2 linked regions of the Homo sapiens genome follow. The protein of the gene in region 1 purifies or fractionates together with the protein of each later gene. This does not show direct contact. Each region holds a gene or a part of one and is shown on either strand. Other genes may lie near its edges.

Region 1 (3,500 bases):
TGGATGGCCATGGATGCAGAGTCCCAGATGGCACACAATCGAAACTTTAGGCACAAGGAGTCAGCCCATAGGCAGGTCTTCTTCTGCACCAGGTGGGCCTCAGCCAATTTCACACGTAAAGCCTGCACTTTCGATTGCTTTCCAGATCACCAGAGTTCAAGAAGCACATCACTGAGAAGAAGACTGATGCGCAAAAGAGGTGTGTGATGGTCAGAAGATGAATAAAGCAGCACTTCCCAAATTTGCTTCTTTGCTTTTTCACCGTGGGACCAATGCCCAAAAGGTGAGAAAACAGACATTAACTCTGTGGTTTAGCTTTCCAAAAGCCTTTAAAATTTAACCCATTGCTTCCTTACACTTTCGATGTTGTTGAGGGAGAAGGAAGCTTTAGCTCCACTAAAAGTGATGCAATTAGGGTGGAAGATGAGAGTTCCCAGCAGCAAGCATGGAGCCAATGAGGTCCTGGGCCCCTGACACTTGGCCTCACACTCTTCCCTCAGGAAGTGCTGGCAATGTGCTCCATGTAGGCCACCATGCAGGCCAAATAAAAGAGAATCTGCCATGAAACTCAATGCTGCCAGGAGGCAGAGAAGGAGAAATACATTGTGGAACAAAAAGCAGAAGTTTCACATTCTGGAATCGAGAGGTTAAAATACAAAACAACAAGAAGAAAAAGGTGACTAGGCATGATTCCCCTTTCACAAAAAGTTGATAGTTGGATTTTAGAAAAACAAAAAAGCTCTTTATCAATCAGCTACTGCTGAGAACATTCAAAATGTCCTTGAAAACAGAGGTGACCTTCTCAGAGCTGCCCAGACAGACACTTGTCATGTTCCTGAAAAGCAAGCCCACTGGGACCTCCATGTGACTTGGGCTGGAAGAAGAGCTCTCGATGGAATGACAGGATTTCCAGGCTGGCTGCACCCTCAGACTGGCTGTGTAACATTAAGCCAGCTAGGTGACCCTGCCATGAGGCCAAGTAACCTCACTGATCAGATGGAGGAGTTCTCATTTTCTCCAAGGTCCTACAGGGCATCAGCCTCAAGGCTGGCCCCTGGGGCAACACGGCTGCATGGCCAAAGGGGCTATCACACATGCCACCATGCTGTAGGGACTATATAGGCCAGCTCCCTACAGTCCTTTACATTCTCTTTTTACCTTGGAAAATGCTCTTGAAAATGAAAAAGGATTTTGCTTTGACATGTTTACTCCAGGCAATTGTTTCGGTTTCACATTCACACTGGATACTCCTTTCTGGTTATCTCTGGACAGGGTCATGCTCTTTCGCGAAAGTCAAACGTAACTTCCAGACGGAATGTCAGAGGCACACACTCCTGAGGTTGGAAGCTTCTTCCCTGGATCCTGGGACATCAAGGATTTTGGCGTGTGATGACACACTCATAAAGGAGAAGCAAAGGCTGGGTGGGAGTAAAAGCCCTCCACAGCCCAGGTGAGGCCTGGCTGTGCTTCACTGGCTCCTAGCTAGCTGTGTGCACTGGGGCGTGCTCTCACCTCTGGAGTTCTGCCTCCTGGCAGCAAACCAAGAGAGTGCCACACAGACTATGCAACCTCCGGGTCCACTTTTGTTCCCATGTTCTATGACTTGGGGACCTCCACCCTGCTCTACTCATTTGCACAAACATGTATTCACTATGGGGGTCCTATCCCTGAATAGGCCATTCCTTCTACTCGTTGGTGCCCGAGAGTTCCTCCCTATGGAAACACAATCAAAGACGACACTTAAAAACACAGATCCCTGCGAGAGAGGGCATTTGCTGTCCCCATGCCCTCTGGCAGACAAATGAATTTCTTGAGAGCTGACTTACTAGTGAATGTGGCCTTACTTCTGCTCTTTCCTGTCCGTAACTTTGGGACTTCACCACGTTGCACTTTGGAGCTCTCGTCTATACAATGGACATGATGACATTCACTTCAATAGGGAGAGAGAATTAAACTTTAACCTTATGGTAAGAGGTAAACAAATATGACCTCTTATTTTTGTAGGTGCAGTTATTAAATCTCCAAGAAAGGTGGAACATACAAGGGTAGAGAGAATACCTTTGTCAGTATCGTTGGGGGTCAACATATATTCATCTTCTAAATGAGAATATTCAAAGAAGCACATACACCAATTTATTATTAATTGAAAAGACCTTAGAGCCAATACAGCATACAGAAGGTAACAGAAGGAGAAATATGAGGCTGGTAGGGGGAGGGTGGAAACAGACGAAGGACCAATCCAAGATCACAGAGGGTATCGAAGGCAAAACCAGGGGAAACATCTCCAGGCTCCAGGGGCAGAGGCATCTGAGCGGAAGAGAAAAGGTAAATGTGGTTCCACACTCTAAATCTTCCAACAGCTGCCCCTTCTCAGTTTGTTAATAAAGGTAAAGGCATTCACAAGCAAAGATCAAGATATGAGCTGGTCTCCACATTATGTGGGGCCTCATTCAGGAACTACGGTGAGCAATGAATACAGATTTGTTGCCTCTGTCCCTCTAAACTCATATTCTTAAAAAGAACAAAAAGGGCTTGAAGGAGTTCTTGTAATCAAAATCGGCTGGGAGAGAAAGCAGGGCCCCAGCAGAGTCTGCTAAATAGAAGGTAATGAGTTAACGGCATAAGCCAGTTGCCTGCATCCTGTCCAGCTGTCTCCTCCAATAACCAAGACCTCTGCACTGCCATGCATTTGCATCAGCAGTTTCCTCACCTGGAATGCGGTCTTTCCCACATTTCCTGAAATCCAGTCATCTTTCGAGTCTTGGCTCCAAAATCACCCCTCCTGTAAAACCTTCCTTGACTCTCCAAGTCCTAGGGAGAACTGACATGTCCCCACCACCCCAGTTCTCATCCCACCCAGCACGGACCTCTATTCTGAGCTGGTAGCATTTCCTTTATAGGTCCGTTGGCTATCTAATTCATCTAGATATTAATAGTACTGAGAATTGTGACTAATACCTAATATAAGCTTAGGTAAGAGCTACTGAATGAGTGCATGGATGAATGAATTATAAATGACTGATTCTGGCTGCTGAGTGTTCTGCGGGTAGAATTTTCAAGGCCCTGCCTTTACTGGCATTGAAAATGTCAAAGAGGTTTGCAGCCACCTTCGGAATTCAAGACACCTAATCATACATATTCATTGGGTCACAGAATATCCTGGTACCTGTCCTTTGAGCACCAGATGACACCTTTAGAATAGTAGCTATTTGTTTTCCCAAACACTTGAAAATTGCAATATTCACTTCCTTTTGCCCTCCTAAGATTCCTTCCCCTCATCTGGACCACAGACGGCAAAAAAACGTCCATTCAAGACTTTTCTAGGAAGCTGTTGTTAGGAGCAGTCCATCACAGTACCCAGGTCTGGACAGGATGAGACCTACCTCTCTTCGTCCTTAAAGATGAATTTCCGCAGCTTGAGGTCCCGCAGCACCAGCCCCCCGTCATGGCAGTGGGCCACTGCCGAGGCAATCTGGTAGAACAGTCTGGCTGCCTCCTCC
Region 2 (3,500 bases), on another chromosome or scaffold:
AAGATGGGGAGAGGGGTTCTCAGGGCTGTAGTCATCAAACTCCGTGGGCATAAGAAGCCCCCAGGCCTCGTGTAACAAGCATCCCATTCCTGGGGCCCACTGTCCAGATACGGGCCAGGAATGGGCACCTCGGGTCATTAGGCTGTAGGTATTTGGAGGGCAGGTCTCACTTTGGGAACAGTTGCTCACCTCAGGGCTGGGGTTCAGCTGGATGGGGCTGGCTCTCCTCTCTGTCTCTGTGGTAGTCTCTTGGGGCTCTGTTTGGCATTAGCATCTGCACAAAGCCCAGTTTTCTCCTCTCTGAATTTAACTGGCCACTTGGTGGTGGTGTGTTGGCTCCCCGCCTCTGTACCCTGTATATGCTGCCTTAAAGGATGTCCACCTTTAGCATCTAATTAATCCCAAGTAAAGGAGCTGTGGTTCTTTGTCACTTGGAGCCTTGGATGCTCCCCTGGTAGCAGGAGGAGTTGGAGGCAGCAGCGGCAGCTGTGTGATGCATCCCAAGTCAAAGGCCTGCAGGCTGGGTTAGCATAAGGAAACTCGCTGACTTACTCAGTGAGAAGGGGTCTTTCTGTCTTGTCTAGAGCTGAGAATGAAGCGGAGAGCATCAGACAGAGGAGCTGGGGAAACGTCGGCCAGGGCCAAGGCTCTAGGAAGTGGGATTTCTGGAAATAATGCAAAGAGAGCTGGACCATTCATCCTTGGTAAGCCTCTGACCTTTGGGAAAAATGGGTGGGCTGGGAGGCAGGGGCAGGGCACATTGGCTCGCATGATCTGACCTACAGACATCAGAGTGAGGTGGCCCACCCACAGCAGTGTGTGGTCCTGCCCTGCCCCAGGCTTGGTCCCTAGCTTCACTACTTGAAACAGAATATGTTTATATCAGTGGAAGACCCAAGCCTTGGGTCACTCTGTACCAGGGGCTGTCAGTGTTTTAGCCATACCAGCCTTAGATCAGCCTTAGCCAATAGCTAGGCTCCGACTCTCCCCCCAGAGAATCCTATGTGTGCCCCTAGAATGGTGACGTGCTCACAGGAAGCACACCCATTAGAAGTCATTAGCTGCATTAGAACCCAAGCTCTGGCCAGGTGCAATAGCTCACTTATGTAATCCCAGCACTTTTCGAGGCTGAGGTGAGAGGATCACTTGTGGCTAAGAGTTCAAGACTTTGCAAGCTTGGGCAACATAGTGAGATCCCATCTCTACTAGAAAAATATAAAAATTAATTGGGTGTGGTGTCACATGCCTGTAGTCCTAGCTACTTGGGAGGCTGAGGCAGGAGGATTACTTGAGCCCAGGAGTTTGAGGTTACAGTGAGTCGTGATCACGCCACTGCATTCCAGCCTAGGCAACGGTGCGAGACTCTCTCTCTAAAAAAATAAAATAAAATAAAATAAAATAAAATAAAATAAAATGAAAACCCAAGATCTATCATCCAAGGCACTGCTTTATGCCATTCTTGGATGGCATAATTTCACAAAGCATTTTGTATAGCCCCCCAAATTTATTTAAATTGGCACAGAAATCCTGGCACAGGTGTTGGCAGTTGGCCAGAGGAGCAGCAAAGCATTTCTGCATGATGCATAAGGACCAGCAGTCCAAATTGCTTATAGTCAGGGTTGCAGCCAGAGACTGGGCGTGAGTTTTACTTTGGGACAGCATTTTGGACTTACAGGCTCAGGATAGTTCCAGCTCCAGTCATTCAGTACATACTTAATGGTGTGTACCTACTACGTGCCAGGCCTGTGCTGTTTGCCAGGCCTGTGCTGTTTGCCAGGCATGCAGCAGTGAATAAGACAAGTTCCTGCCCTCACAGAGAAACAGAGTAAACAACTCACCAGTCATCACCGGTGGTGCAAGTGCCTTGAAGGAAGTTCCACGATGACGTGAGATGAGAAGGGCCCGTAGGTAGGGCAGGCAAGAAAGGCCTGTTTATGAGGAAACACCATATGAGCTGACACCTGAGGAGGAGAAGCAGCAACTGTGGGGAAAGCTGGGGAAGAACATTGCAGACAGAAGAAACAGCACTGCAGAGGCCCAGCAGCAGGAAAGGGCTTACCATGTTGGGAACTAGGAGCCCAACATTAGGAGCTGGAGTGTGGCATGGGACAGGGAATGGAACATCCTGTTAGAAAGGTGGGCGGGAACTGAATCATGCAAGGCCTTGGGGGCCAGACAAAGGAGTTTGGGTGGTATGTTAAGAGCAGTGGGTCTGTGAACATTGCACTGGTAAAAAGGAAAACCAAGAGCAGCGGAGCTTCGTTAAGAGTTTTTCACGCAGCAGTGGCACTGTGACATCAGATTTCCACTCTCAAAGCTTGGGCAAGGTGCTGTCACGGGACAGTGAGCACTGTGCATCTCCAGAAGTACAGAAAGTCCCCAAAGCTGGCACTTGGACAGGGGCCAGATGGCTGTATCAGAATCTCCAGGGAACCTGTTGCGGCTCTAGTTTCCTGGATCCTCACCCTGAAGTTGCTCTTCAGGGGATCCAGGATCTCTTGGGTTTTGTTGATTTTTTTGAGGCAGGGCTTTGTTCTGTTGCCCTGGCTGGAGTGCAGTGGCACAAACACAGTTCACTGCAGCCTCAGCCTCCTGGGCTCAAACGATCCTCCCACCTCAGCCTTCCAAGTAGCTGGGTCTACAGGTATGCTCCACCATGCTCAGCCAATATTTTATTTTTTGTAGAGAAGAAGTCTCACTGTGTTGCCCAGGCTGGTCTCAAACTCCTGGGCTCAAGCAGTCCTCCCACCTCAGCCTCCCAAAGTGTTGGGATTACAGGTGTGAGCCACCACACCCAGCCTGGATCTCTTGTTTTTAATAGATGCTCACTAGACATTCCAGCGTGCACCCAGGGTTGAAAACCTCTCTTTGGGAAATGTGTTTGCAAAAGCTGGATGTGCTCCAGGCAGAGCACACATACCCCTCTATTTTTGGAGGGGAGACCTTGAAAACTCTCCACCAGGAGACCTTGGAGGGTCAGTCCAGTACACATGAGCTATGGTGCCCTCCTGAATAGAAGGTCTAGTAAAAGACCACGTGGTGACCTGGCGTCGTGACAGCCAGGGCTTCTGAAAAGTAGACCAGCAGCTCTCTGTGCCGTAGGTCCCCGTCTGGGCAACTCACCGGTGCCAAGCATAGTGCAGTGTTTGGCGAGGAAAGATGGCACGGATGACTTCTATCAGCTGAAGGTAAGTGAGACATGGGGGTGAGGGTGCCTCAGGAACAGGGCCTGTCATGCCAACCCACTCCTCCCTCCTCCACCTTCACACCTGCGTCATTGTGAACAAGAGTAGCGCCATTTCTTCCCGAGAAGCAATCAAGTTCACAGTCTCCCTCAGAACAACTTCTGATTTAAAGAGTTTTGTCTGTGCATAAATTACATCACCATCATATTAAGAAAAACGATTTCACTTGGTGTGTTTGTGTGTGCATTGTGCACAAATGTCATGTGGTAAAAAGCCCCCTGCTTCCCCCGTTCTGGTTGTTCTGCTGTGTAAAGT

What was found. Proteins that work in one complex are often made in the same cells at the same time.
Region 2: the proteins of TRIB2 (region 1) and STK40 purify together in Homo sapiens (affinity purification with mass spectrometry; 3 studies listed by BioGRID and IntAct, with this or other methods). This does not show direct contact.

What each region holds. Positions count from the first base shown.
Region 1 is NC_000002.12:12,723,436-12,726,935, reverse strand, and holds part of TRIB2 (tribbles homolog 2), read right to left. Parts: coding exon 3,384-3,500; intron 1-3,383.
Region 2 is NC_000001.11:36,358,425-36,361,924, reverse strand, and holds part of STK40 (serine/threonine-protein kinase 40), read left to right. Parts: intron 1-584; 5' UTR 585-592; coding exon 593-704; intron 705-3,087; coding exon of another isoform or gene 3,088-3,102; coding exon 3,103-3,188; intron 3,189-3,500. UniProt on the Homo sapiens protein: May be a negative regulator of NF-kappa-B and p53-mediated gene transcription.